Linked DNA regions of Homo sapiens. The protein of the gene in region 3 purifies or fractionates together with the protein of the main gene of each other region. This does not show direct contact. Each region holds a gene or a part of one and is shown on either strand. Other genes may lie near its edges.

Region 1 (4,565 bases), on a different chromosome or scaffold from region 3:
CAATTCTGACTCAATAGTAAAACTTGCTGGGTTTCCTTAGAAAGTGAGCTATTCCAAATAGGTTGGCATTCTAAATAACGAAATAGTCCTGTTTAAAAAGAAACCTTTAAAAGTTTAACAATTTTAAAATATAGTCATTTTAAGATTATGCACATTTATTCATGATATTAAAGAAGATATATTAAACATAATTTAGCTATTCTTAATTACTGAGGGTCACCTGAAACACTTATATGGGGTATCTTTGGAAGGTTAAACTTTTTTTGCTCTTAGGATATGTAACTTGAGACTACCGTAAACACACACACACACACACACAAACACACACACAAATTCCTATTATTCATTAGTTTTCCTCTTCCCTTCCTTGCTACTACCTTTCAGGTATTACCTCTTACTACTAATTTTAACTCTCTCTAATCATTATTTAATACACAACAAAATGGGAAATAAGAAAACTGGTTTCGATATATACATGTGGGGATTCTGGACTTTGAGTCCACCAATGTCATTCTGTCTCTTTTTAGAATCTGGGTTCCAGGCAGTTAAAGCCTGGTAGCTAAGATGCCAACTATTCTTGGAGCAAGTTATTTTCTTCTAGTCTGTAAATAATTGTAGGCATTAAGGTATTAATTTAATAGTTTTTTATGCTAAAGTCTCTGAACAAAACTCATCAATTCAAGGTACTTAAACTACAAACTATTTTCTATTTTTTTCACACCTGCAACAGTAACAAAAAAAAGATGCGTTTCCTGGTCAATAACCTGGAACTTATTCTATCGAGAAAAAAAAAAATGAAAGAAACTATGGAACTTTTTATATTACTAGTGTTCTGCTCGATAGTTTTAAAACATTATTTTTTAATTGACAAATATCTACTTTACTTTTTTTTTTTTTTTTGACACGGAGTCTTGCTGTGTCGCCCAGGCTGGAGTGCAGTGGCGTAATCTTGGCTCACTGCAACCTCCGTCTCCCAGGTTCAAGTGATTCTCCTGCTTCAGCCTCCTTAATGGCTGGGATTACAGGTGTCTGCCACCACGCCCAGCTAATTTTTGTGTTTTTAGTAGAGATGGGGTTTCACCACGTTGGCCAGGCTGGTCTCGAACTCCAGACCTCAGGTGATCAGCCCATCTCGGCCTCCCAAAGTGCTGCGATTACAGGAGTGAGTTACCACGCCCGGCTTACATTTCAATCATGTTATGTTAGGTCATTTCAACATGTGGTTTAAGAACAAGATTTGATCAATAATATAACAATCTGGATTAAAAGAACTCTTCACAGAAAATTCTAATGATAGTCAACATTTGATAATTTGCCCAAATATAATGAAGTTATTAATGTCTTCAGTTTTAACAGAAGTATTTAACAAAAATACTCACCCTCCTGTGCCAATGGATCTCTTTTGATGGTTTTTCGAATCATAATAGCGCTGTAGGATCATAGCACTTCTGCTTTTCAAATATCCAGTCTCCACCTCAATATAGTTCTCCAAATAGGAAATGAAAATGGATTTGATAAGCTTAGACAAGAAAGTCTGTTTATCAGTACCTAAATTAAACTCCATCAGCTTGCTGGAAAGATTGGTGGTTCTTTTCATGAAAAAGGGGGAGAAAAAGATTAATATACATTTTAGGTATAGTAACAATATTAAGGAATACAAATTTTTACAACGTGACTTTCATGACTTATGTTAAGCCACCATTTCTTAAACTCTGGGAGAGTACTTATGATGCAGAGATCAACTCTACAGGGTTACATATAAATACAGTGAAATATTACGAACAACTTTACGGTTTTGAGAACTGTTATAAATTCCTAGGAAAAGAACTTGTGAGGCAATTAACTAGTCCAGAAATGGCGACAGTGGCAGATTGGCCTCAAGTATGTCTAATGCCATTCATCACATGGGACCCAAAACAGAGTACTGAAAGATCTACTGTCTGTTCACCCTCTTTTGTTTTGTCCTTGTGGACTTTCCCTCTAATTTTCTATTTCCCATTGCTGAAGATAGGGTCATAACAGTGTTGTTGTTGAGATGGACTTCCTCATTACGGTAACTTTGGAAAAACCTTCTCCCAAAATGAAGACACTGAAGAAGAGTAATAGGGTTGGGAAAAGTCAAGGAAAAAAAAAACCCCACAAGACTCCATATGAAGCTTCTGAGACAATCTCTAAGAGTAACACTGACATTTACAAAAGCACAAGACAAATTCCTACAGAAGATTTAGAGCTGAAATTGTCATTTGTTAAGATTACATCACTTCCTTTTGCAGTTTCTAAAGTTTTGACTGCAGATAAATGTAATTACACTAATGCTTAGAGAAAAAATAAAGCATAACATCCAATTCCTGACGTTAATGTATTAAGAATGTTGTACAATACAGTCTTGTACAATATAACTAGTCTATACAGCTAAGCATTTAATGCTAAAAGGTAAACTGGTGACAAACTTATTCAAAAATACCTGAATACTTCCTTGTTTTTATCAAAAAAATTTAAAAAATCTGTTATCTATTATTTTCTAATCATTAAAAATTTACCTTGTATACAGATCATAGAGATTTTTGAGATATTGCTCTGCATCGGACTTCCTACATTCTTCTAACTGCTCTTTCACAAAACTCTAAAAGAAAAAGGTTAACATTCTGTTAATTAGGTAAATATTAAATTCTACAACTTCTCAAGATATTTTTCTTTTAAAATTCACTCCACAGTTTTGAACCTTTCTGACTTACAATCCAATCAAAAAGGCAATTACAGAAAACAAACCAATCATAAAATATTTTAAAACAGGTTTTTACATTTTACCACTTCTCATATTTACCTGTAGAGGATCTTTATCAGTCTTAGGAATAATACCTTTTCTGTTAAATTGGCCTATTCTGCTCTGTGAGGTGCATCAAAAAAACAAAACTGAGAGTACAAACAATAGAGTCAATTCCTTAAGGCAGCATCTCCCAAACTGAGTTCCAGGTAACACTAGTGTTCCTTCAGATGTCTATAGGCATTACTCCAAAACAGGGTTTCTTAGACAGTAAATGTGTGAAATGCTGTACATTACATCCCCACTTCTAGAGAATGACAATACTATCAAAATTCCTGAATTGTGTTAAAAAAAAAAAAAAGCAAACATTTATTGAATGTTGTTTAATCCAGTTGTAAACAGCTTAGGAAATGTTATCTGAAAGTACAGTGATATGGGGGTAAATTAAATTTCTGTGTTTTCCCTTTTCAGGTTAGTACCATATTATTAAAAATTCTACAGACTGCTCTTGTAATTCTTGTTCAGTTTCACAAATGACATCTATTGGTGAAGGCAGGGACCAAAAAAAAAGAAAAATCTTCAAGGCTATCTTACCACAATATATTATACTACTACTACGAATACTACACAAATTTCAAGCATGTTCTCTGATGATACTTATTGATTAGCACTTTCTTCTTGGTGAATACAAAACATTTTTTAAAAAGCATGAGGATTCCTTTCTCCTTAACTAGATTACTATTTCTAAGGTCATTACATAAGTAAACTAAATTTTAAAAATACTTTTAAAATATAGGGAAAAAATTACATATTGCTTTAAGAACTATTTAATTTGTTACTATTTAAAATTACCTGTAGTTTGATTTCAAATACATTTTGAATAAGTTTAGCCAGGACTGTTTCTGGATTACTGAAGATATCTCCAACTTGTTTGTTCACTCTTTGACAGAGTATTCCAGCGTCTTCAAATATATCATTTCTCAAATAAGCACCCTAAACAGCAGAGACATTTTATACAGTGAACATATAATTTCTACATGATTTTAAAACAACAATTAGCATAAAATAATATCCAACAAAGTGTACTGTTATGTTACCTCCTGGCACTGCTTTATATAAACATCAACACAATGGGAATAACCCTACAAGGAAGAAACACATTGTTATTATTCTGATTCAATTATAATAATTATTATTTCAAAAAAAGAAGTGTTATATGTCATAAAGCTATGACTATTTACCAGTAAATGGCCAATAGCAACACCTGTTGGACTTAAATAAAATTAACTGCAGAAAACCAGTAACTTGATAAAGGTATCGTCTCCCTAGTCACTTTCTATGATAAAATTTATCAGTTGGTACATATCCTTGTTGAACTTTAGACTAAAACAAGAAAGATGAAGTATGTAACTGAGTTCTTTAGAGTAATTTTTGTCCTATGATCATCTAGCCATCTCCTTCAACTCCAAAACACACCCACTCACACCCACCCACACACATACACACAAACACACACATACACAGAGAGTCAAGGTCTTGGGAAAAGGTTTTACATATATATATGTATGTGTTTTATATACATATAAATATATTTATATATATTAAAGTGTGTATATATACGTGTGTGTGTGTGTGTGTGTGTGTGTGTATATATATATATATGTGTATATATATATTTCTTTTTTTTTTTTTGAGACAGGATTTCACTCCTGTCACCCAGGCTGGAATGCAATGGTGTCATCTTGGCTAACTACAACCTCTGCCTCCCAGGCTCATGCGATCCTCCTGCTGTAGCCTCCCG
Region 2 (4,565 bases), on a different chromosome or scaffold from region 3:
AGCACAGAGCGTAGAACATAGTAGGTGCTCTTTAACTACCTTCTACACACATAAGTGAATATATTCTTCTTGATCACTACTATGAATTTTTCATCCAAGAAAAACAATGCTTATTTAAAAGCAGAAGGTATTTGAGTCTACAAATCTTGCTCTTCACCTTGAAATATGAATTAACCTCCACTACTACAAATAGAAAATTAATAGAAAATAAGGAAGTTTTCATGAAGATGACTGTCAGAGAATATCATTAATTCCAATCTGTTTTGTTCAGTAAATCTATATAAAACCTTGATATACTACCTATAATGTAGCAACAATTACAGAATAGACTAACAAAAATAACTATATATGGAAGCATATTCATATTCTACAAAAGCACTTTCTGTCTGAAAATATGTAATACAGAAACCACAATGCAAAAGTTTCACAATTTAGGCTGTAAGAAAAATGAATGAGTTTGACTGGTAATTCTGGTATTTTCAATATTAGATAGCCAAACTCTTCAATGACATCTTTTACATCATCATCATTTATACTGCACCACTGGGACCCATGTTTCCCTAACGCTAATTCTATAATTTTAGGAAGACTCATAAGCTGACATTTAATATAAAGGTGCCTCATCCCCTTGTAATTCCTGGTGAATTACCTGGTGAATATTCATACTGTTGGTTACCTCTGACATAAAATAATGTGGTTTATGTTAGTCACTGAGAATCTATAAAGTAAGTTACAGTCAAGACAGAACTTACCAAGCACAATGACCACAGTCTTCAGAAGACTCATCATGGTATCCCGATTCCGCCGGGGTCCAGAACTATGCCGAGACATTCTCATAGTCCTCTGGCGAACATAGCCAAAGATGTGAGCATAGAGAACCACCATTACCACAAAGGTCACCAAGTTGAAAATGGCCCAGAAGACTAAGTAAGAGTCACTGTAGAGGGGTGCCATGTTGGAACAATTTTCAATATCACAGATACAGTTCCAGCCCACACTGGGTATAGCACCCATAACGATGGCCATAGTCCAGATGACCACAATGACCACCACTACCCGCCGGTTGCTCATCCGTGTGTGGAGCTGCATGCGGAAAACCGTAATGTGCCTCTCGATTGCAATAGCCAGTAAGTTGGCCACAGATGCCGTCAGGCTGGTGTCAATGAGGCCCTGACGAAGGAGCCATGTGCTAACAGTCAGTCTCCGAGTATTGGGTCCTGTGTTGAACATGAGATAGAAGTAGGCCAACCCAGCAAAGAAGTCTGCAGCAGCCAGATTAGCCATTAGGTAATAAATAGGAAAATGGAAGCGGCGGTTGACATAGATTGCCACCATGACCAATAGGTTGGCCAACATGATGAAGATACAAACAGTGATTCCAAGTCCCATCACCAGCTTGCTGACTGTGTTCCATTCTGTGGCAAGATGCTTTCCACTTCGGTTATAAAAGAAGGCAATGGACTCGTTGTAGAAGCACTGTGGTTCATTCATGGCTGTGAACTAAAAGAAAAAGGAGAAAAGATGATGAAAAAGAAGGCACAGGTCCAAATTTAAAGCTTATATAGATAACACAAGACTTTTATAGTACATGCAACAGAAAAACAAAAGCAAATAATTTGAACATTTGATCCTGCATACCATCTTGTGATTATGTTGAAACTCCAAGGTTTCTCACAATATTACTGTCCTTAAGATTAAAGGCAGTTGGAGTTAAATAAATGACAAGGTCTCTGCTTAGTGGTTTTATGTCATTGAAGTCTACTACAAAAGCCACATGGCCAAGAAATCTTGCTTAAAATACATGAGACAGACAAAAATTTTGCAGAACATTGCAATTGGAATATTTACCATAGTAAAATCTATTTGACCTGTTATTTAGGGAATCTGTAAACACAGTTGGTTTCTAGATAGGGTATCATTGCCCTATTATTCTGCATTTCTATTCTCACACAGTATGTTCCATGTGGGACAGACATTTTGTAATGCAGGTTCCCACAAGGACCATCATTCCAAACATTTCAAACAAGTCACTGTGCATCAAAGGTTTTTTGCCCAAAGCCAGCATTTGCTGCTCAACATTCCTGTGGTCAGCACTGCCTACCCCCACAACTCCTTAAGTTCAGAATAGGACTTGTCAACCAATCTATGACATTTGAGAATTTTTTTTCTTTTTGGAGGACCCAACGTAACCTCCAAAGAGTAGGTGACCCTTTGACAATGTTCTACAAGTAAAATATACTTAGATTAGATGCAGCATATTTTTTAAAGTGTGGAGTGAAAATGCTTTATAACATGTTTACTTATTCTTCAACATCATTGATAAGAATATATTTGCTTATTATTTACAATATTTATAATAATCACTTTAAAAAGGATTGAGACAGTTTAAAACAGAATAATATATGTTTATTTATCTATCATAATATATAATATATAATTATATATAATTATAATATGTAATTATATATAATAATATATTTAAACAAAATTAGAAAATAAGTAACAAACTAGAAATTAGAAAAGTATACATCACATAGAGTAAGTCATTCTTCTTGAAGCTCTAAGTTTACCTGGGACCCCTAAAATTAAAAAATATATCTTGAAGACGGTTCACATTCTACTTTTTCATTTTTATTTTGCTTTGAATCTAATAAATTACCCAAAACATATGACACTTTTAACCACTATTTTTGATCAAATATTCTACTGAATATCCATAGGTTGTACACTAAAACTTCCAAGAACAACGTGAAATACTTAAGTGGTTAGTCTTCTGACTTACCCAGGCATCTAAAGTCTCTTTCCTTATCTAGACTTTAATAGCTTTTAGATTATGCTTCAAATATTATACTTAATACATTGTATAATTATTTATCTCTTTACTTGTCTGCTTCTTAAAGAGATCACAGTCCAGGGCACAGTGGCTCACATCTGTAATCCCAGCACTTTGGGAGGCCAAAGTGGGTGGATCACTTGAGGTCAGAAGTTCGAGACCAGCCTGGCCAACATGGTGAAACCCCCTCTCTACTAAAAATACAGAAATTAGTCAGACATGGTGGTGGGCACCTGTAATCCCAGCTACTCAGGAGGCTGAAGCAGGAGAATCGCTTGAACCCGGGAGGTGGAGGTTGCAGTGAGCCAAGATCATGCCACTGCACTCCAGCCTGAGTAACAAAGCAAGACCCCAACTCCATCTCAAAAAAAAAAAAAAAAAAGACAAAGTTGATCAAGCTGTTTCCCCACTGGACATGTTTTAAGGGCTTATGAGTGCACGTTAGATAAAAGTCTAAACTTTTCAATCATCTTATCAGACCTTACTTACCTGCCTCTCCAGCCTCAACTCAAGATATTAATGACTCCAAACTCTCAGCTTCAGCTCTATTTAATGTGCTGTGCTCTCTCTCTCAACTCTGGTTCTCAACAGTGAAAACAGTGGTTTCTTGTATCAGAATTACCTGAGAGTTTGTAAAACACTGATTGCTGACATAACCCGCAAGAACTTCTGATTCAGTAGATCTGAGGTAGGGTCCCAAGTAATGCCAAGGCTGCTGGTCCAGGGAATCACTGTATCATAATTGCTTAATTATCTGTTGATCCCCTCTACACTAGGCTATGAAACCCTATAAACGCAGAGATTCTAGCTTGCTTATTCATTGTTGTATAGTATCCAACTGTTCTATGGACTACATGCTAAATACATATTGATTTCCTTAATAAATTAAAGATATTTCCAAAAATGTTTAAACTTTACAAATTTTCTTTCTGCAAAGGATATTTAAAACTTTGTCAAGACAAATATAAAAGTCTGTTCTTTTCATTAGTCTCTATAACCATCTACCTTCTCTGAATCAAGAAATGTTTAAACCAAATATCAAGCGTATATTATTTCCCAGCATTCCAACTTCTGAACACCAAGTAGCAACAAAGTTAAGCAGAGATATATGCAGCTTCTTAGCCCTTCCCACAGAGAAAAACGATAAAGTTAAGGATGGCAAAATTAAGAAGTATAAATTATCTCTTTAAGCCACAATGTACAAAGATGAGTAAAACTGACAGATTTTCTCTAAAGGTAGAGAAAAGTGCCCTGTCCTATGCCATTTCTTTTCTCTCAACAATTGACTGTAATACCATAAAAACCATACATATTTAATGATAAAACTTAAATGATTTTCGAAACTCAATTTTATCATCTGTGAAATGAGGAAATTGGACTAACTTATACATAAGGTCTAGTTCAGATTTAAAATCCTATACTAAGAGGATTCTGGATAAGAACGCTATATTTCATGAAAATTAGCAGCTAAATATTGAAAGAGTAGAAAATACACCAGGAATTAAAAATTGGGAGGGTATAATATGCCTGAGAAGAAGTGAGAGGAATTTCAGTTAGTTTTATGACAATAGGACTGAACTGATAGAGGAATTAAACCTCCTCTCTTATTGTCTGCAGAAAGCAACAGGTCAAAAGAATAAGCAGTGGAGACCCTGAAAGCACCTCCAATGGCAGTAAGAAGGGCAGTGTGAATGGGCTTTCCTACTTCTTCAGGAGCCGACAGACTTAGGCA
Region 3 (4,565 bases):
TACCAAAGAGGAAAAGGATAAAGAAAGTTATTTTTTGCCAAGGCAATTTTTTATAAGCTAATTTCATAAGTCACACATGTAGCGGTTTGTTTTTCTTAGCTGCTATCCACAAAAATGTAATGATGGTACGTTATAAAAATATTTTTTATTCACACAATACATGTCTAAATACCATTAAAGTGTTTTACAGATATTATTTAAGCAAATTTCAAAAGGCCAAAGTAAAATAATGAGTAGGCAAGAATCACTCCTTTTTATAAACAGAAAAACTAGAACTGAAAATGTCAGGTAACTTGTTCAAAGGTAATAATCAAATAATTTAGGTAGCCAACTCAACTCTAGAATTACTTGACTATTTTCCCATTTCTCAATAACTTTAACCCATAAGAAAGATTATATTTTATGAGAATGAGAGAAAAAGCTTATTTTCAAGCCGTATCATCTAGTATTTTACCTCTGCAGTCAACAGCATATTGTTGACTAATTCCATGTAAGCTTTCATTTCTGCTTTTTGGACTTCCTCCAGCCCATCACTAAGAGAATGGCCCTAAAGGGAATTTAAAAAAATTTAAAAGAACATCATATTAAATATACAAAAACTTTCAGTTATCTCACTAACAAATAACGTAACATGCAACTATACAATGAATTAAACGTCCAAAATGCCCCCTAAAAATTATTTTATATAAAAGCATAAATAATACTCTGCTATCACTACAAAATATTAGTATGTACTTACTTGTCATTATACAAATGTATCTTTCAATAGAGAAAATTACACTATCAACTACTTCACAAAAGAAGAAAACAGAATGGTCAGCAAACCTTGTTTAAGAGATTAACCTTATTTAGAAATAAAGGAAATGCCAAAAGACTGACATGTGCTGTTTATAAAGTGGTCAAAGATGAAAAAAATACGTTTGTAAAGATATGGGGGGAGAAACCCACTTATTTTAAAATTCTAATACTCTATAGTTACTAGGAGATACATAAAATGATATAACCTTTAGTTCAATCTGGCAATCTATTACAAGATTTAAAAAGTACATAACCTATGACATCCTAATACCACTCTCAGGAATTTATCCTAAGGTACCAATACCAACCTTAGGAATTTATACAAAGATGTATATATAAGAAAATTTATCTTAGTACTCTATAAAAACAAAAAATTGGCCATGACCTAAAAGCCCAACAATAAACTTGAGTAAATAAAATTCTAATTTATCCAATACAGGGGGAGGGTGTTGAAGAAAAAAAAAATAATATATATATATATTTTGGAGATATATATATATCTCCAATACAGCAGAATACAACAATGTGAAAGGATGATATATACCTACAGCTATTAATATGGAAGAATTTCCAAACATATTTATGATTTTAAAAGGTATGTTGCAAAATAATACACACTAGTATGATCTAGGTTTTTCTATATATTCAAAAAGTCTGGAATGATTTTTCAGAAACACTAATGGGAGTTGTTCCTTAATAACTATTAAAATCTAAACTGAATAAATGAAAAGCAGAATCATTCAAATGGATAAATACATTCAACTTCAAACAAATCCTGTATCTCCCTTTTCAAAGGTCAGCCAGACACTTCAAAACCTAATAGTTTTTCATTTATGACCACAGTTGTAGTAAGCATAAGTTAGAAAATTATCTACCATTTTGTAAAGATCAAACCATCTCTTTAGACTAGATATTAAAATTACATACCTTTAATAAATTTGACATTAATAGAGGAAAAAAAGCTACCTCTTTTGCCATTATATCATGAAAAAATACTAACTTACACTTCAGAAATATTTTCCAGTAGTTTGCATTGGCATTTTATAAAACTAGGTTGAAATCAATGTAAATGTTAAGACACATTAAAGAATGATGAATGACTTGGTAACTGATCAAATACATTTAATATCTTTTTATTACCTTGGCTTTAACAAATTGGACTATTGGACCAAGTTCTGATACTACTTGATTTCCCACATGAATAAAAGGTACTTTACCTGTTGAGAGAAAAAAAAAGTATTTATAAAAATACTTCCAGTATGTTAAAGTTTGTGATAATTAAAAAAAATTAACACAAAACTCAGGTATTTATAAATAGGGATTTCATAAAACTGTAACTTTTGAAAATTTTTGTCAGATGTGTATATTAAATTCTGTAAGTTTTTAAACTGATTACTAACCAACTTTAGAAAAAAAGAACAGGTAAATTCATTTCTAGAGTTCTCACTTAGATATAATAACAGATCACATAACATTCTCTTTTCAGAGCCAACACAAACATATCACCATATAGCAGCAAACACTAATTATCCAAATTACATGAACCAAGCCAGGACACTGGTACATGACCACTGATATATTTCAAAGAAATGTAAGCTTTCTTTTCAGAGTACAGTGAATCAATCTATATTGTAAACTACATTTAAAAAACCTTTTTACATCTTTTAAGTCTTTGATACCCATTGAGATCAACATTTTAAGCAAGTAATTGTATATCAATAAATCTCTTTAACTCAAAATAGCAAGAATTAAAAGAATTAACAATCTTTGAAGGCATGCTAGTTGGTGAGTTGTAATACAGAGTATGTTCCCAACATGTGGGAAAAAATAATAGTATGTTTATAAAAACTAGCTTCTATAGATAAATGTCACATTAAAAAAGAAATATTTCACTTTAACAAATACTAATACTTGGAATTATTAGAGATGAGAGAACAAAATAATCTCCAAATAGCAAGAAGGGTCTACTCCAAATGCTAAAGAATGAAACCTGCTGTCACACCTAGTTCAAATAGAGTTCACACTAACAGCAGGCTTCTTCCTGTTCCTTTTCAATAGATTCACTCCTCTCTGGCTCCGTCAGCCTGGGGGTAATGGATGAAGTACAGAGGCCTAACAAAAGCTTCAACTGCATCCATAGGACAACATGCATTACAAAGAAAAGGCAGGCCTTTTGGAACACAACAACTCAATAGATGTATTGAGAAGATATTTCCCTGTTGCCAATTCTGCATTCCTTCCTTCTACTGCTTTATAAATCTTGCAAAAAAAAATTTTTTTATCTGGTTAAGCATTAGGCCACATTGTTTTCTTAACTCGGGATAAAATCTTTGTAACTACTATACTACCAGAATTATTACAGGTCCCCTGAGATCAAATGATCTGAGAATGAAAACTATTTAGTACCTAGACAAACAGTATTTGGGGGTATAATATTTTTAGAGCAAAGCATATTCCTTGTTTTTAATGACCAGTTTCAGGTTCTTGGAAAAAAGGGTTTGTATTTTTTTTCTTTTCTTAAAAATACATTGAGCGTTGTCAATTCTGAAGCAAAAAGAAGTGTGGATAGTCAACTGAGTATTAATCTTATATATCTCTAAATATAAAGAGATATATAAAAACAAACACAACAAATTAGAAGTGAATAATGTTTTCTGTCACTAGCCTGCTTAATGAAAATGGAGCCAATGTTATATCCTTATTATTGCAGGTATCAGGCAAAAACACAGTAAGACAGTTATTTTCTGGTGCGAATCAAAGGTCATATAAGAAAACTGAGGGCTTTGTTTACCGTCTTAGACAGAATAATCACTTTTAAAATTTTTATTCTAAAGAAAGCAAGAATATGTTGCCAAACAAGTTGGCAGATTCAAAGAATGCAAGAAATAGGACCTTGGATGTCATCTAATCCGGCTACCTTATATTACAGATGAAGTCACTGAGGCTCAGAGAAGTGAAATTTCTCAAGGAAATAGTTAATATGTGACAAAGTCACAGAAGGATTAGTTAAAGATTTCCTAACTCTTTAGGAAATAAGAGTTTAAGTCAACTGGTCTTCTGACTAGTCCATGCTCTCTGCTTTAAAAATCTACCGCAAGATCAAAGAAGCAAATACAATAAAAAACATTTCCCTATCACCTCAAATCATTAAATGAAAGAGAATACCAATCTGAGATATGATAAAGTTTAAATATCTTAGTAGAAAGTGCCATTTTCATCTACCTATAGGAGACTCCTATGAAAGAATGTATATTTTTGTATGTCTCTAGAATATTTATGTTTGTCTTTCGCGCAATCTAATAAAAAGAAAATAGGTATCTACCTAAATGACACTAAGTATAGTAATTTTAGGAAACAGGTAGATAAACTATATTGATATCTCACTTGCCAAAGATCTGAACTTTAGCATTAGATTACTAACCTTCTAACCTTTTTACATAAATATACAAACTGTTTGTATGACTACATAGAGGAAAAGGATGGACAAAACACAACATAACTTATTTCACCAGAACTCTGTAGTTCCTAAAATCTACGTATAAAACCAACACAAAAATGAGTCAATGAATGCCCTCCAAGAATCTAAAATATGTTTACATTTACAAGCCTAGAAATTATTTTATGGAAATGTTTTCTAAATGTATATTCATAAACCTCTAAAACCAGGTATTTATATAAAAGAACATTATGTACAGAAGGGGTGTCTTCATACCTTTTAACAATTTCTACCACCCTTAAAAACTTAAGGTGGAAAAAAAAAATTTAAC
Region 4 (4,565 bases), about 90 Mb from region 3:
GATGCAGAAGTGTAAGAAAGGAATAAGCTACTGGTATCCAGGATTATCTAGCTCATCTTTCCAGTGGAGCTGAGCCTCTGTCCCTTAAAGCAGTGCTGAACGAATCTTTGTTGGAGTCTGAGTATATTTTTCTCTGCTATTGTTGTTAAGTGGTTGGTGGTTAAAAAACAGGTGAAATAGCTTCTTTAGCCCTCTGTCTGGGCACACCATTTATTAAATAGGTGTCCACAGGCTGATTTGGGAACCTAACTACTCATCCCACCTTTGTGTCTTCTTAGCAGTACTACTGGCCACTCCTTCCTTCTTGAAACTATTTCTTCCCTAGGCTCCCTGACACCATACTCTTCTGGCCTTTCTCTTACCTTGCTGGCCACTCCTTAACCTCCTTTTCTGCTCAGCCTCTCAAATGGTGGCATACCTGGCATTAGTTCTGAAACGTTTTCTCCATCTGAACTGTCTCTAAGTGTTCTTGTTGAGTCCCGTGACTTGGAAGTTTAAATACCATCTATACCTGATAAATGTCTATCTCCAGCTCTGACCTCTGCCTTGGCTTCAGGTTCCTATCCAGCAGCCTACCTGGTATCTCCAGCTTGATTTTCAGTAGTCATTTCATGCTTATCATGCTCCAAACAGATTTATTTATTCTCTCCAACCTGTCTTCCAGCCCCTCAACTTGTTTCTCTCTAAATAAACTGAGTTGAACAATCTGCTCAGCTATTCCAGCCCAAATCATGCTTTGTTGTTCCTCCATCAACTCATATTCAGTTGCCCCACAGATCCTACCAGTTTTGCATCCAACATAAATCCCAAATCTGTCCACTCCATTACTACCACCTTAGCCCAAGCTGTCATCTTAACAGCTTCCACTATTTTTTCTTTTTCTTTCTTTTTTTTTTTTTTTTTTTGAGACAGAGTCTGTCTTTGTGGCCCAGGGTAGAGTGCAGTAGTGCAATCTTGGCTCATTGCAACCTCTGCCTCCCAGGTTCAAGTGATTCTTGTGCCTCTCAGCCTCCTGAGTAGCTAGACTTACAGGTGCATGCCACCACATGTGGCTAATTTTTGTATTTTTAGTAGAGACGGGGTTTTGCCATGTTGGCCAGGCTGGTCTCGAACTCCTGACCTCAAGTGATCCACCTGCCTTGGCCTCCCACGGCGCCAGAATTACAGGCATGAGGTACCATGCCCGGCCTTCCCCAAGGAATTTAAACACCAAAGTGCTGGGATTACAGGTGTGAGCCACCATGCCCAGCCAATTTGCCCTTTCTTCATACCCTTCTTTCTGTGTCTATTTACGCAGGCAAATAAAACATAGTCGAATCAGACACTACACTGCTGGAAATCCTCCATGGACTACCCATTTCATTTAATATAATTCCAAATTCTTAACCAGTACCCAAAAGGCTTCTTGATCACTGCATGCCATGAGCCATTTCACTGCTCCAGGCACCCTGGTATTTTTTGTCTGTACCTTGACTATATCTTTTGTCTTGGGACCTTTATGTTTTCTCTGCCTAGTACATTGTTCTATCCTCTCTGTTTAAACCTTGAGCTCTAAGCTTAAGTTTTAAGCCTAGATGTCACTTTGTTAGCAAGACTGAGATTTCCTATCCCTTCAGTCCAAAGTAGAGTCTCTGTATTACTTTCTGTTATGTTGCCCTGTTTATTTTAAATGTAAGGTGGGGGAAAAGGAGGTTGAAGGGGTGTTGATGCTTCACAACAGGTCCTTGCCTGCTCAGTCATATGTAGAAATATGTATCACAATCTCAGATGTCTTTTTTGTTTACTGTCTGCTGCCTCCATTGAGATATACACTGTGAGAGCAAGAAGTTCGTCTGCCCTAAGCACCATTGGATCCGTACAGATAGTAGGCACTGCCTGGCACACAGGGCTAGTAGCACTTCATAAATACTTATGCACTGACTGAATGGATTCATTGATTTATTATATTGTTTCTGAGAAAAAATAAGTTCTGGATTTCAGGTAATCAGTGTTAAGTAATTTGTAAAGTGACCTATGGCTATTTGTTAGGCAAGGTATATTTTTTGGTTTTTTTTGGCCCATGTTGAATTTAAATTCATTTAAAAATAAGCAGTTTTCTTTGTTTAGAAGTCTATGTCAAGTCTATGTCAATAACTACCAGATACTTACTAATTTTCTTTTCTTTTTTCTTTTTGAGATGGAGTCTTGCTCTGTCGCCCAGGCTGGAGTGCAGCAGCGCAATCTTGGCTCACGGCAAGCTCTGCCTCCTCGGTTCACGCCATTCTCCTGCCTCAGCCTCCCGAGTAGCTGGGACTACAGGCACCCGCCACCACACCCGGCTAATTTTTTTTTTGTATTTTTAGTAGAGATGGGGTTTCACCATTTTAGTCAGGATAGTCTCAATCTCCTGACCTCATGAGCCACCTGCCTCAGCCTCCCAAAGTGCTGGGATTACAGGTGTGAGCCACCACGCCCGGCCAACTAATTTTCTTAATGATTCTTCAAAGTAGGCATTATTACTCACAAATGAGAAAGTGGAGATTTGAGAAGATAAATCATTTCCCCAAGGTCACACAGATGGTTGTAGTAAAGCTACGCTTGATTCCAAGTATATAGTTACTTTTTTTCATATCCTGGATTTAGTTATTTCTCAGAGGAGCATGTGATTCAGGAAATGGCAGTGTTTTATATGAGAGGCAGCCTGGTGATGTGGAAAAACCACAAGTTTGGGGGTGAGAGAGACCTTTGTTTGAAATCTGGTTTTTGCCACAGCTGTGTGATCTTGTTTGAATCACCTTCCAGGGTTTAGTTTTCCGTTTCACATGAGAAGTAGAAGTGTACACATGCCTGGCACATTAGAGGCGTTCAGGATATGGAAGCTGCTGTTGTCATGGTTGATAGTGGTCTTTCTGTTTTCCTAAAAGTATATGTGGAGAATTGAAAACTAATAACTACTATGTTTGGTTTCACAGATAGAAGAAGTCAGAGATGCCATGGAAAATGAAATGAGAACCCAGCTTCGCCGACAGGCAGCTGCCCACACTGATCACTTGCGAGATGTCCTTAGGGTACAAGAACAGGAATTGAAGTCTGAATTTGAGCAGGTGAGGACCTGGACTCCCTTCAGCCACACCCCTCTTCCTGACAGGATTAAGAGACTCTCCTTTCCTTTTAATGTACTCTGAGGATGTCGAAGATTTGGAAATCTCCTTGTATGTCTACAAAACTGCTTCTTTTTACATAATGGTGTACCTGTGTGTTCATGATCAGATGTGTTTTTAAAATATATATTCTAGTCATTTGGAATCTTCAGAGCTTTAAGGAGAGTTGGTAAAGGGGATTTCAGGAATGCAGACAGTAATATTTGACATGTGTATCTTCCTCCTATAGATGGCATGGTACTGCTTAGATTTTTATAACTGAGGTAATTTCCCAGAGAAGTTTTGAAATCCCAGTAAATTATCAGGATGCCTGTAATCATAGTTTCTATTCAAGAAATCATTTACAGTAATATTAACTTGTTACTTTGTCTTGCAAGAAGATATTGAGGTTTTCTAAGTAAAATCTTCCAGAGAATCGCGATGTATGTCAGTATGAAAAGGTATTTTAAATTCTATTTGGATATTTTTCTGAGAAAAATTAATGTATAAGCTCTTAAATACAAGATATTAGAATATAATTTAATCTAATTATTATGTTTAGGTTTGCAGTACAGATAATTTACTTTCTAAAGCTGACAATTTGTGGCTGAGCACAGTGGCTAACACCTATAATCCCAGCAATTTGGGAGGCTGAGGCGGGTGGATCGCTTGAGGACAAGAGTTCAAGACCAGCCTGCCCAACATGGCGAAACCCTGTCTCTATTAAAAATACAAAAATTACCTGGGCATGGTGGTGCATGCATGTAATCCCAGCCACTCCGGAGGCTGAGGCATGAGAATCGTTTGAATCTGGGAGGTGGAGGTTGCAGTGAGCTGAGGTTGTGCCACTGCACTCCAGCCTGGATGACAGAGCAAGATTCTGTCTCAAAAATAAAATACAGTTGGCAGTTTGTTTCTGACTTTAACAGCCTTCTCTCTTCTCTTGGTATGCCTCCTCTAATATTAGGTTCCATCAGTAAACCTGTAAAGAATTATATACATCGGCCGGGCACGGTGGCTCACGCCTGTAATCCCAGCACTTTGGGAGGCCGAGGTGGGCGGATCACGAGGTTAAGAGATCGAGACCATCCTGGCCAACATGGTGAAACCCATCTCTACTAAAAATACAATAATTGGCATGGTGATGCATGCCTGTAATCCCAGCTACTTGGGAGGCTGAGGCAGGAGAATCACTTGAATCTGGGAGGCGGAGGTTGCAGTGAGCCAAGATTGTGCCACTGCACTCCAACCTGGCAATAAAGCAAGATTCCATCTCAAAAAAAAAAAAAATATATTATATACATCAAATATGAGTCAGGACATTTTTGAAACTTTACACAAAATGTAGGAATTTCGTGACAACTCTAAGGCCCTCTTTGCTTCAGCAAGTAGTTGCTGGAAGATTACACAGTTACATGACATGCATTGAGTATCACTTTTTTCTGG
Region 5 (4,565 bases), on a different chromosome or scaffold from region 3:
TTGAAGCTGCCAAACAAGTACGGTAGGTGAGCTCTTTTGTGTAAAATGTTCTGGGAAAATGCAATTGCTAGAAGTATTCTCAGATATAAAAGTCTTCTTATATTCCTTACAACAGAATAAAGTACATAGTCACTCCTTGTTACGTTAATTCACTACTACTATTTGTGATGCAACCTGTATAGTGGTTACAAAGTTCCTGTTATATTATCATTTAGCTATAGGCTGTTACTCAACATTAACTGTGGTTTCTGTCTTACCATATTTTATGTAATTTAAATCAAAGAGAAAACATTTTCTTGTGCTTTATTTTACATTGAACATTTAACAACTTCATTAACGTTGCACATCATTTGCTTTTTTTTGCTCCTTGTGTTTATATGCCAGTCTTCAATAAGTGACCGATGTTGGGACTCTGATGTCTTGCCAAGAGTGATTACTAAGCCTTACAGGTCATTAAAACTGTTTATTGCTAATCACTAGAAAATTAATTTTTAAATTGATCTGCTTAGTGTTTTTCTTAGTGCATTCTTAGTGCTGAGTAAGCCACATCAAAACCTATTAATTTTGTGTCCTTTATCCAAGTGAGGGATAAATTCATCATCTTTCCCTAAACCTGCTTCATCAGTATTCTCAATCTCAGTAAATGATGTAATCATTATCCTATTTGGATAATGTAGAAGAAATGGAGAAGCCAATTACTGAATCTTTCCTGCCCCAGTATTTTCCCATTGCAGTCAACTCCCAACCCTTATTCCTGACATTTTCTGGGATTCCATCCATGCCAATCAAGCCATTATTGTTTCTCATCTGGAGAACTGCCACATTCTTTTACTTGAATTCCCTGCCTCTATGCTTGCTCTTCCCAAGCCTAGACTTTAAAGCTGTTTTTGCAAAGTACGCACTCATTTCACTCTCATGCTTCGGTCTTTTCAGTTGCCTTCCTTAGGATAAGGTCCAGAAAAACAAACAAACAAACACAGCTTGGGTACTACATACATCACCTGGGTGATGGGACCATCCATATTCCCAAACCTCAGCATCATGCATGTAACAACCCCCAACATGTACCTTCTGAATCCAAAATATAAATAAATAAAATAGGGGAAAAAAGAATGAAATAAATGAAAAATTCTCAAAAAAATAAAGTACAGCTTATGGACCCAGTAGCGCTATCCTTATTCCTTGTACTCTGCGTTTCAGTCATGTGAAGTTTGCGTCACTTCTTCAACTGAACCAGGCTGTCTTGTCTCCAGGCCCTTGCACAGTATGTTTCCTCCACCTCAGACACTTCTTTGCCCCTTCATGTTTCTGTGTAAACATCATTTTTCTTAAGATACCTTCCCTGACCCTGCAAACTAAGTCTCCTTGCTTTGTGAAGTTCCTAGCCCATAGTGCTACATTAGTACCACTTTATTGTAATTACCCCACTTGGAATCTTCTTTCCTTTTAGAGTATAAAGTTTATGAAGGTAGGGATAACATCTTATACATCTGTTTTCTCAACTCCTAACATAGTGCCTGAAATTTGTAAGTACTTAAATAAACATTTGCCAAACCATTGTTTTAATTGTTCACTGTCTTTTCACTTGTTTGGTTGAAGAACTAAGATTTTGAGTTTCCAAACTATTTAGATTTTTGAGAATCCAAACGGTTGATCATAAGAATTAGACTTACATGGTTTTAGTGTTCTCAGCTAGGGAGCTAGGTTAATCCTGAGACATTTTCAGAACATCATTATTGTTGATGCGTGATGCAGCGGACCTTAACGTTCATACTATAAAAATCGCAGTCTTTTTTTGTTCTGATTATTCAAGCAAACCAAAATGATAAAGTATCAACTGGTAGGTTTCTGCGTTGTTGCTTTTATGAGATAGAGCCAAAAAGTTTTTTTACTTCTTGTCCTGTGTGTGTTGATTATATTATATAATATTTGTTTATTTTTTGCTGTTTCCCCTATTAGAATATAAAAGCTCTAACGAACACAGAGACTTCGTTCCTTTCCTTGTTTTATCCTCAGCACCTTGAACAGTGGCTGGCAGAGTAATAAATATTTATTGAATGGAGGAATGATTGGAATCCCCTGGACAGTAAAGTTGTTGATTCAGTGCTTTTACTTTTCCTATTTAGTTCTGAAAATCCAGAATGGCTTGATGTTTACATGCACATTTTACAACTGCTTACTACAGTGGATGATGGAATTCAAGCAATTGGTAAGGTGGTTTATCGGGATGCACTACAGTTACTCATTTAATTGTTTGCTGATTTTAAAGTACTGCTTTATTTGTCCTCTTTATTAAGTACATTGTCCTGACACTGGAAAAGACATTTGGAATTTACTTTTTGACCTGGTCTGCCATGAATTCTGCCAGTCTGATGATCCACCCATCATTCTTCAAGAACAGAAAACAGTGCTAGCCTCTGTTTTTTCAGTGTTGTCTGCCATCTATGCCTCACAGACTGAGCAAGAGTATCTAAAGATAGAAAAAGGCAAGTACAGTTTCCCAGGCTCATACTGTTTTTCATTTCATTTATTTCTCCCTTTTAAAAAATGCTTTCATTTCCCTAATTATAAAAACATTACATGCTAAACTTCAAAAATTTATTTTATTATCATATTTATTTATTTTATTTTTTATTGATTTTTATTTTTTGGAAACAGAGTCTTGCTGTGTTGCACAGGCTGGAGTGCAGTGGTACAATCTTGGCTCAGTGTAACCTCTGCCTCCTGGGTTCAAGTGATTCTCGTGCCTCAGCCTCCCAAGTACCTGGGATTACAGGCGCACACCACTATGCCCAGCTAATTTTTGTATTTTTTCAGTAGAGACGGGTTTTTACCGTGTTGGCCAGGCTGGGCTCGAACTCCCGACCTCAGGTGATCCACCCACCTCGGCCTCCCAAAGTGCTGGGATTACAGGCGTGAGCCACCCCACCTGGCCTGTTTACTTATTTTAAAGCCAGAGTCTTATTTTGTTGCCCAGGCTGTAGTGCAGTGGCAGGATCATAGCTCACTGCAACCTTGAATTCCTGGGCTCAGGTGATTGTCTCACCTCAGCCTCCTGAGTAGCTGGGACTACAGGCACATGACGCCACACCTGGCTAGTTTTTAAATATTTATAGAGACAGGGTCTCACAATCTTGCCCAGGCTTGTCACAAACTCCTGGGCTCAAATGACCTTCCTGCCTTGCCTTCCAGAGTGCTGGGATTACAGGCATGAGCCACTGCACCCTGCCGAAAAATTTATAAAAAATATCAAGGAAACATGATGTTTGTAATCTTACCATCCCACACATGCACATATATTTAATTCTGCTTTTTAGCCAACATTTCATTTAGAAATATAAAATGAATATTTTCCTATATAAACACATATTCTTTCACAGAATTGTTTTTATGACCACAATTAAATTCATGATTCATTTAGAATTTATTCTCGTGTCACATGTGAAGTGTGGCTTTAATTTTTTTTCCCCCTTTGATAACTTTGGTTCTAGTGGTATCAGTTTTTTCCCAGAGGGCTACCCAGTTATCTCAACATCATTTAGTGAATAATCCAGCTTACCCACACTGATTTGAAATTTCATCATTATTTTTAAAATTCCCCTATATATTCTGTTCAGTTCCATTGCTGTATTCATATATTAGTAGCCATAGTGTTTTTAAATATTAAGGTTTTATGTTTTAATACCTAATAAGGCAAATTCCTCTTCATTCTAAGTTTTCAGAATGTTTTTAACTATTTTTATCACTAACTTTGAGTTCCAAAAACAAAAAATTTCTGACATTTTTGTTGACATCGTGTTAACTTGATAGGATATGTTATGCCCTTTTATTTGTTCAGGTCTTTTTTGTGTCCCTCAGTAATGGTTTCTTCATATGGATCTTGGATATTTCTTATTAGTTTCATTCCTAGATAATTGTATCTTTTGGGTTTACTATTGTCTGTGACATATTTTCTTCCACTGATTATTATTGTTGGAATATATGAAGGCTATTGATTTTGGTATATTAACTTTGTATCCTGTAACCTTACCAAATTCTTAATATTTTTAGTAGTCGTTCCAGTAATAATCTTTGGGCTTTATCTGATAGTGCTTTGGCTTAAGTTAGATATATTTTATCACTTGTCTATCTCTGGTTTATTCTTCTTGTCTTTCTGGGTTGCCTAGAGTCTCTGGTGTAAAATAATAGTGATGGTAGAAAACATCCTTACCTTCTTCCTGATTTTAGTAGGAATAATCCTAGAGTTCCATTGTTAAGCATTATTGGGTATAAGATATATGTTTTACAGCCAGGTGCTGTGGCTCACACCTATAATCCCAGCACTTTGGGAGGCTGAGGCGGGCAGATTACCTGAGGTCAGGAGTTCAAAGTCAGTCTGGCTAACATGGTGAAACCCTGTCTCTGCTAAAAATACAAAAATTAGCCAGGCTTGGTGACGCATGCCTGTAATCTCAGTTACTCAGAAGGCTGAGGCAGGAGAGTTGCTCGAACCTGGGAGGCAGAGGCTGCAGTGAGCTGAAATCACGCCATTGTACTCCAGCCTGGGCAGCAGAGCAATACTCCGC
Region 6 (4,565 bases), on a different chromosome or scaffold from region 3:
TGGCCAATTTTTGTGTTTTTAGTACAGATGAGGTTTCACCACGTTGGCCAGGCTGGTCTCGAACTCCTGACCTCAGGTGATCTGCCTGCCTCGGCCTCCCAAAGTGCTGGGATTACAGGGGTGAGCCACCGCACCCCGCCCAAGTACTACACAGATTTTTATCTCCTCTTATTCCCACTGATTCTTCTTACCCCCATCTCACAGATGAGGAAATTGAGTCTTGGAGAGAGTAGGGACTGGTGGGAGGCCCCACAGCTCAGAAGGAACTGTGCAGAACTGAAATCTGCCTCTGGGTGTGAGCTAGAAAGAAGTGGGTGAGTAGAGACTTCTGTGTGAGCAGGTCATTTGAGCAAGGGACTGGGCCCTGAGGGTGCTAGAAGCCAGTGTGAGGTGGGGGTGGAGAGGGGCCTCCACACTAGGAGGCTTGGAGCCTGTGATGGGTTGGGATTTTATCTCAATGCCACGTGTTGTCACGGAGGGGCTTTTGACAGGGGCGTGATCCCTTCGCTCTGTCTCTGATGTGTGGTCAGCCTCGGGCAAGTCAGTTTGCTTCACTGGGACTCAATTTCCCCCAAATGCAAAATGTTGGGATGTAACAGCCCTAACTTCATAGGCCTGCTGGGTAAAGGCTGCCGCCAGGGCCTGGCATATGTCAGTCTTTACTATGGCAATGAATTCAGCTGTTCTTTTTTTTTTTTTTTAACAAGCAATCAAGTGTAGACACTATATACAGTTACTACGCAGGCTGCCTGGGTTCAAATCCCAGCCCTGACACTGACTAGCTCCATGACCTGGGGCAAGTCACTCAGCCTTTCTGTGCCTCAGCATCCCCATAGGAAAATGGGTTGTGGTGGTGCACACCTGTAATCCCTGCACTTTGGGAGGCTGATCTGAGAGGACTGCTTTGAGCTCAGGAGTTCAAGATCAGACTGGGCAATGTAGCAAGATCCCATCTCTACTAAAAATTTAAAAAATGAGGTTGGGTGTGGTGGCTCATGCCTGTAGTCCCAGCACTTTGGGAGGCCGAGACGGGTGGATCACCTGAGGTCAGGAGTTTGAGACCATCCTGGCCAACATGGTGAAACCCCGCCTCTACTAAAAATACAAAAATTAGCTGGGTGTGGTGGCACGTGCCTGTAGTCCTAGCTACTCAGGAGGCTGAGGCAGGAGAATCACTTGAACCTGGGAGATGGAGATTGCAGTGAGCCAAGATCGCGCCACAGCACTCCTGCCTGGGCGACACAGCGAGACTCTGGCTCAAAAAGATAAAAATAACAATAATTTGTTATTGACAAAATAATTTTGTGTAGGCATGGTGGCATTAGCCTATAGTCCCAGCTACTCAGAAGGCTGAGATGGGAGGATTGCTTGAGCCCAGGAGATGTAGGTTACAATGAGCTAAGATCGTGTCACTGCACTCCAGCCTGGGCGACAGAGCAAGACCCCATCTCAAAAAAAAAAAAAAAAAAAAGAAAGAAAGAAAGAAAGAAAAAAAAAAGAAAAGAAAAACAACAGGTTGTTGGGAAGACTTAATGAGTTGATATCATAAGGTCCCAAGGCCTTGGCTGGTGCATACAAATGCTAAGTGCTGGTAATGATGATTAATGTTGATGTTGGCTTTTCTTGTCTGGATTTTCATTTCTGATTTTAGTGTGAACTGAATCCTTTATGGAATTAGATGAGGCTCACAGACATGAAAAATACATCCCACCACCCAACTTCCCCTTTTTTCCTGCTGTCCTGCATCAGGGAATGGCAGCTTGAAGTTGGCATTTGGGAAGATTCATTCATTCATCCCACAGTTAGTTTCTTTATCTATTTATTTGTGTGGCCATTCATTCCACATGCCTGCAGACACACTTACAGTGGATAAGTCTAAGAGCTGTTCCTGGCCCCTCGTTCCCCAGCTGCATGTCCTCTCTGGTCCTCATTTTGCACATCTGTAAAATGGAGCTAATTACCAGGGACAGGCGCAGTGGCTCATGCCTGTAATCCCAGCACTTTGGGAGGCCGAGGCGGGTGGATCACAAGGTCAGGAGATAGAGACCGTCCTGGCCAACATGGTGAAATCTCATCTCTACTAAAAATACAAAAAATTAACTGGGCATGGTGGCACACGCCTGTATTCCCAGGTACTTGGGAGGCTGAAGCAGGAGAATCGCTTGAACCTGGGAGGCAGAGGTTGCGGTGAGCTGAGACTGCACCATTGCACTCTAGCCTGGGTGACAGAGCAAGACTTTTTTCTTTTTTAAAACAAACAAACAAAAAAACTACCTCCTAGGAGAGTTAGAAGGGTCCACTGAATTTATATCATGCCTCCCCAACATGTTTTCACCATGCCACGCAGTAAGAAACACATTTTTACATCCTGATGTAGCCCATAGCTCTGTAGTCTGGGGCAAACTGCTGCATTGCTCAAAGCCTCAGTTTCCCCATCTGTAAAACAGGGAGAATAACAGTCCCACCCTCAGAGTGTGGGGATGCAGTGGGATTACATGTATATGGATGCAAAAAAAAAAAAAAACAAACAAAAATTAGCATAACCTTTACTTACTGAGAGATGTACTGTGATAGTCTGTAATCGAATCTATTTCATACTTAAAAAAAAAACATGGTTTTCCAACTCACTAATTTAATTTTATGAGGCACTCATGAGTAATACACTGGTGTCTGAAAAAGTCTGGGTTAGACATGTGGGGTGCTTAGAATAGTGCCTGGTACATAGCAGGCACTCAATACAAATGCACTATTATGATTAGCATTTCTGCATGCATTTGTGCATTTATTCAACAAATACGCTTGTTGAGCTCCCGCCAGATACACGTGTCCTCCAGGGCTCCCCCAGAGGGTCCCAGCCTGCTCCACTCACCTGGGTACAGCGGCTCCTGGTCACTCCTGAGGAGAACAGCCACTGCAGAGAAGGGAGGGGTGAGGGCAGGCAGGCTGGAGGCTGCAGGGGCCAGGGGAGGTCAGAGGCACAGGAACCGCTCTCACCAATGGCCCAGGATGCCGCCCCGATGGCTGTCAGAAGTAGCAGGGTCCCCGCAGTGAGAGCTGCCACCTTGGGTCTGGAGCAGCATGGCACAGTCCGGCCACCTGCAACAGACACCATGCTGGGGCCACAGCCAGGCCTGTCCTCATTGCGGCAGGGTCTGGGCCCGAGGCCAGCTCTGCCCTGCCCCCAGGGCTAACTTATTATGCCCAAGCATGTCCTCCCCAGGCCCAGTTTCCCGGGGCCAGCAGTTGACAGGGCTGTTCCTCCCCTGCCGTGTGAACAACCAGGTGCCCAGCTCCCCCAGGGTTCCAGCTGGGAGGGGGGCATGGCCGGGCCACCTGCCACGGTCTCCACCTCCGCCCTGCACTTTCCTGGCACTTAGGGAATGTCTCCTCCCCAGTGACACTGTGCTTTTGTATTTCTGTCTTTGCTTTGGGCCATCTCTTCTTGGGACTGTGACCCCCAACCTTTGCCCTCTTGGTAGCTCTCTTCCCTGCCGCTGGCATTTCCTCGCTGCCTCAGTCGTTTCTGCTGTTCTAGATGCTTTGCCCCTAGATACCCCCTAAATCAGACCTCTCTCATGGTACCCAGTTGCAAGATCAAATTTGCCCCTCCACTTGAAAATCTGCCAGCCTCATTTTATTTTATGTATTAATTTTTTTAGCGACGTGGTCTTGCTATGTTGCCCAGGCTGGTCTCAAACTCCTGGGCTGAAGCGATCTTCCTTCCTCAGCCTCCCAAAATGCTGAGATTACAGGAGTGAGCCACTGCGTCTGGCCAGCCTCATTTAAAAATATTGACCCTACCCCTTCCTAGCTGGAACCTAAGGCAGGTGCCATCATATCTTTGAGCCTCAACTTTCTTATCTATTAAATGGGCATCCACTGAGCACCTACTTCTAAAAATAATAATTTAAAGTTATTTTCAAGAAGAAGAAGAATAGCTCAAATTGTATTGATGCCTCCAGGTGCTAAGCACCGTTCTAAATACATCAGCTCATTTAGTCCTTATTTCAATCCCACAACTATGATTCCTGTTTTTGAGATAGCTCAGAGAAGTGGGGTCACGTGCCCACAGTGACAGCCTGGAAGAGGCAGAGCAGCGTCCAGAACCCTGGGCAGGTTTGATGCCAGGTCCCCTGTGTACAGCCACGAAGCCATCCTGGCTCTCACTGTGCGGAAGTGCCTGGCACATAGCAAGTTCTCTATAAATGCTTTATAAATCATCAGAGATGTGTGGGCCTGAGCAACTCCCCTCCCCTCTCTGAGCCTCAGCCTCAGTTTTTTTCTTTTCCTTCCTTCCTTCCTTTTCTTTCTTTCTTTCTTTCTTTCTTTCTTTCTTTCTTTCTTTCTTTCTTTCTTTTTCTCTCTCTCTCTCTTTCTTTTTCTTTTTTTTTTTTTTGAGACAGGGTTTCACTGTGCTGCCCAGGCTGGAGTGCAGCGGCGCGATCATGGCACACTGCAGTCTCAAGCGCTCAGGCTCAGGTAATTCTGAGCCTCCCGAGTAGCTGGGATTATAGGCGCACACCACCACACATGGCTAATTTTTGTATTTTTTGTATTGACGGGGT
Region 7 (3,694 bases), on a different chromosome or scaffold from region 3:
GCTGGGGGGCCCTGGGCGTGGGTTCCCTGGATCCAGGGAGTGTGAGGATGGCTTTCTCTGGTTCCTGAGGCATGGACCGAGTCCTAGCCTGCATCTGAGCTCCGTTGTGCTAGCTTTGTGGTGTCTGGGTCGGGGAAGTTACTGTTAGAAAGTTGCCGTCAGCGGGCGTTGTTCCAGCTTTCCATGGAAATTCTGGGAGCTGCTCCTAGTTTGCGGCGGAGCCTTCCTTCCTTCCCTGCATTGGGCGCTGGACCTTCACGGCCAGGAGGCTCCAAGGCCCAGGCTTTTCGCCAACAGCAACAGGCTACTGGCTGGGCCCAGGCAAGGGGGCCTTGGCAGGAAAAGTTCCTTGCTGTACCTCCACTGCACTCAGAGGCCAGTGAGGGGGGTACCAGACAGGACTCCTTCCTCCCTGGTGAAGTGCCCTTGCAGCTCCCTAGTGTCCACGCCATGGATATTTCCTCCACAGAAGTACAATGCTGATTATGATCTGTCAGCTCGGCAAGGGGCAGACACCCTGGCCTTCATGTCTCTCCTGGAGGAGAAGTTGCTCCCGGTGCTGGTGAGTGTGCCCAGACCTCCCAGCATCCATGGCCAGCCGGGGAGGGTTCGGGAACACACAGACCCACACACAGGCTCAGGAAAGCATGGGGGTCAGAAGCCCACCTTGAATCAGACAGGTGCACTGGCTCAGACCTACCTGTTTCTTCCTGCCCACCCAATCCAGGTACATACTTTTTGGATAGACACCAAGAACTACGTGGAAGTGACCCGGAAGTGGTATGCAGAGGCTATGCCCTTTCCCCTCAACTTCTTCCTGCCTGGCCGCATGCAGCGGCAGTACATGGAACGGCTACAGCTGCTGACTGGGGAGCACAGGCCTGAGGACGAGGAAGAGCTGGAGAAGGAGGTAGCTCTGAGACCGGGGGCTATTGTATGAGATGAGCCCCAAGGATGCTGGCCAGGAATGGGAGTGCTTAGGTGGGGAGGTGGCACTGTTCCCACAGCTGCAAGCCTACCTGTGTCGCCCCTACAGCTGTACCGAGAGGCTCGGGAGTGTCTGACCCTGCTCTCTCAGCGCCTGGGCTCTCAAAAGTTCTTCTTTGGAGATGCGTGAGTCTGACTCCAAGAGGGTAATGGGTGGCTTGGAAGAAGATACAGGTTCAGATGGAGCAGCTGGAGCTGGGGCTGGGGCTGGGGCTGGCTCAGGCTCTGGATAGGAGGTCCCTGGGATAGAAACTGGCCCTAGTGACAGTGTGACTGTGTGGGGGCCAGAGCCTTCTCAGAGGTACAAAAGGGTAGGGTGGGAGGGCAGCCAGGCACAGGAGGGGCCTGAAGAGCTGTGGGGCACTGAATGTGCCCTTTATGCAGCCCTGGGATAGAGCCCTATTCAGGGCCAGGCTGGCGCCACCTGGGGATCTCTCCCCATACCAGGTCTAGAACTGTGTGTCCTGTCCTTCCCTGGTGGCCGCCTGCTGCCCAGAGCCCACCTCCCAAGGCTGACTCTTCCTCCAGCTCCATCTTTACCCCTTCTACCCCAGTGGTTCTCCTCCATCCCACCCTTCTCTCTCTGCTCCAGCCCTGCCTCCTTGGACGCCTTCGTCTTCAGCTACTTGGCCCTGCTGCTGCAGGCAAAGCTGCCCAGTGGGAAGCTGCAGGTCCACCTGCGTGGGCTGCACAACCTCTGTGCCTATTGTACCCACATTCTCAGTCTCTACTTCCCCTGGGATGGAGGTAAGGGGCAGATGGGAGGGGCAGCCCTGGGGAGAGTGGGCAGGGATCCAAGAACTAGTTCTCCTAACACACCTTCCTTCCTTGACCCTCAGCTGAGGTACCACCGCAACGCCAGACACCAGCAGGCCCAGAGACTGAGGAGGAGCCATACCGGCGCCGGAACCAGATCCTATCTGTGCTGGCAGGACTGGCAGCCATGGTGGGCTACGCCTTGCTCAGCGGCATTGTCTCCATCCAGCGGGCAACGCCTGCTCGGGCCCCAGGCACCCGGACCCTGGGCATGGCTGAGGAGGATGAAGAGGAATGATTTGTCCTCACGCTCCCAAGACTGGTTTTTCTACTCTCATGCATTCCAGAGGCCCCCGTGCCTCCTCGTTGTTGGTACAGCCGGACACGGGGTGCTGCCACCCAGAATAAAGCCACTCACACTGACTGGGCTCAAACATTTTCTCCTTTAAGAGCTGCCATTTTTCCTGGCTGGTGCCATAGGAATCATCTGGGTGCCTGGGCACACCCGCTGCTGCTTTAAGGCTTCCGCCCTGATGCTGACACTGCTGCTCCACGGGCCCAGTTCTGCATCTCCAGGAAAGACAAACAGTCTCCAGTTTTGGGCCCAGCTTTCCTAGTCTCTTCTTTTCCTTACCCTCAGCCCTGATCTTGTGTTTGTACGGACAGTGAGCTCACCCTAGGCCTGGACCCAGGCCCAGTTTCCAAAGCAAGCAGCACACAGCGCATGTTCACATAAGCATGGGGGCTGGGGGGACACTGGGGCTTACTGATCTTTTTCTAGGGGCCTCCAGCCCCTGGCACCACCTAGAGGGGAAAGTGAGTCACCCAAACCATTGCCCCTGGGCTTACGTCGCTGTAAGCTCACACTGGCCCTGCTGTGCCCTCTTTAGTCACAGACAGCGTGTGAGCTGACTCTGTCCCTTTAATGCCCAGGCTGAGCCCAGTGCCTCCTTGAGTATCTGCTCCATCACTGGCGACGCCACAGGTAGGTGTGAATGGAGTAGCCAGGTGAGATTGTCTCCAGGAAGCCCACAGCAGGATCCTTGATGGTAAGAGGCACATCCTTAGAGGAGCTAGGGAGCAGGGAGGAGAAGCTGAGAGTGTGATCCTGCCAAGGCCCCCAACGCTGTCTTCAGCCCACTTCCCAGACCTCACCATTGCCCTCACCGGTTTAGCACGACCACAACAGCAGAGCCATCGGGATGCATCAGTGCCACTGCGTCCGGGTCGTTCTTCTGACTGGCAACCAGCCCCACTCTCTGGGAGCCCTCAGGAATGAACTTGCTGAATGTGGGAACAGATGGTCAGAGTCCCTCGGGGTACCTCCCATGAAACCCTCATCTAAGAAGTCGCCCACCCACGGACCCACCCCATAACTCCTGCAAAGGCTCTGCCCTGGCTCTCTAGGCCTGGAGCCATGCTGCTGGGCACTGACCCTGCTTTTCTGCATCGCAGTCCAGCCTCAGGCATTGGGGTTTTCTGTTGCTACCTAGTCACTTCCTGCCTCCATGGCGCAAAAGGGGATGGGTGTGCCTCTTCCGAGGTTCCACCCTGAACACCTTCCTGCTCCCTCGTGGTGTAGAGTGATGTAAGCCATCCGATGTAGGAGATGATAGGCCTGGTATGGAATGGGGGTGCCCGCCCTCCACTCACCTGAAGTGGCCAAGGTGGTAGAACATGGGCTGTTTGTAAAACGTGTGCTTGGTGATGTCTACAATGATGGGTTCCAGTCGGTCCAGCCGACCACATGGTACAGGAGGTTCTAGGGTAAGGACAAAGGCAAGGAGACAAAGGCGCAACACTGGGGGTCCCCAGAGAGTGTAGGTAAGGGTCACGTGTGGGAGAGGCAGCTGTGGGTAGGTCAGCCCTGTGAGGGGCACATTCCTTAGTAGCTAAGGAGTTGGGGGTGTGAAGATCCAGGCATCTCAAGGGGAGCTGAGAAGTCTGAGGC

Evidence for each region.
Region 1: the proteins of MTX2 (region 3) and EXOC5 purify together in Homo sapiens (affinity purification with mass spectrometry; one large-scale study listed by BioGRID and IntAct). This does not show direct contact.
Region 2: the proteins of MTX2 (region 3) and LPAR1 purify together in Homo sapiens (co-immunoprecipitation; one large-scale study listed by IntAct). This does not show direct contact.
Region 4: the proteins of MTX2 (region 3) and IMMT purify together in Homo sapiens (co-immunoprecipitation; 6 studies listed by BioGRID and IntAct, with this or other methods). This does not show direct contact.
Region 5: the proteins of MTX2 (region 3) and SAAL1 purify together in Homo sapiens (co-immunoprecipitation; one large-scale study listed by IntAct). This does not show direct contact.
Region 6: the proteins of MTX2 (region 3) and HPN purify together in Homo sapiens (co-immunoprecipitation; one large-scale study listed by IntAct). This does not show direct contact.
Region 7: the proteins of MTX2 (region 3) and MTX1 fractionate together in Homo sapiens (co-fractionation; one study listed by IntAct). This does not show direct contact.

The regions. Positions count from the first base shown.
Region 1 is NC_000014.9:57,230,127-57,234,691, forward strand, and holds part of EXOC5 (exocyst complex component 5), read right to left. Parts: intron 3,907-4,565; coding exon 3,862-3,906; intron 3,758-3,861; coding exon 3,617-3,757; intron 2,624-3,616; coding exon 2,541-2,623; intron 1,590-2,540; coding exon 1,380-1,589; intron 1-1,379. UniProt on the Homo sapiens protein: Component of the exocyst complex involved in the docking of exocytic vesicles with fusion sites on the plasma membrane.
Region 2 is NC_000009.12:110,940,669-110,945,233, forward strand, and holds part of LPAR1 (lysophosphatidic acid receptor 1), read right to left. Parts: intron 1,501-4,565; coding exon 753-1,500; coding exon of another isoform or gene 673-752; exon of another isoform or gene 1-672.
Region 3 is NC_000002.12:176,324,275-176,328,839, reverse strand, and holds part of MTX2 (metaxin-2), read right to left. Parts: intron 2,016-4,565; coding exon 1,939-2,015; intron 548-1,938; coding exon 455-547; intron 1-454. UniProt on the Homo sapiens protein: Involved in transport of proteins into the mitochondrion.
Region 4 is NC_000002.12:86,146,220-86,150,784, reverse strand, and holds part of IMMT (MICOS complex subunit MIC60), read left to right. Parts: intron 1-2,951; coding exon 2,952-3,083; intron 3,084-4,565. UniProt on the Homo sapiens protein: Component of the MICOS complex, a large protein complex of the mitochondrial inner membrane that plays crucial roles in the maintenance of crista junctions, inner membrane architecture, and formation of contact sites to the outer membrane.
Region 5 is NC_000011.10:18,084,787-18,089,351, reverse strand, and holds part of SAAL1 (protein SAAL1), read left to right. Parts: coding exon 1-22; intron 23-2,126; coding exon 2,127-2,209; intron 2,210-2,297; coding exon 2,298-2,486; intron 2,487-4,565. UniProt on the Homo sapiens protein: Plays a role in promoting the proliferation of synovial fibroblasts in response to pro-inflammatory stimuli.
Region 6 is NC_000019.10:35,047,821-35,052,385, reverse strand, and holds part of HPN (serine protease hepsin precursor), read right to left. Parts: intron 3,124-4,565; exon of another isoform or gene 3,097-3,123; coding exon 2,995-3,096; intron 2,912-2,994; coding exon 2,870-2,911; intron 1,941-2,869; coding exon of another isoform or gene 1,865-1,940; intron 1-1,864. UniProt on the Homo sapiens protein: Serine protease that cleaves extracellular substrates, and contributes to the proteolytic processing of growth factors, such as HGF and MST1/HGFL. Plays a role in cell growth and maintenance of cell morphology.
Region 7 is NC_000001.11:155,211,658-155,215,351, forward strand, and holds the end of MTX1 (metaxin-1), read left to right. Parts: intron 1-469; coding exon 470-562; intron 563-727; coding exon 728-910; intron 911-1,036; coding exon 1,037-1,113; intron 1,114-1,579; coding exon 1,580-1,734; intron 1,735-1,826; coding exon 1,827-2,041; 3' UTR 2,042-2,166; downstream 2,167-3,694. UniProt on the Homo sapiens protein: Involved in transport of proteins into the mitochondrion. Essential for embryonic development.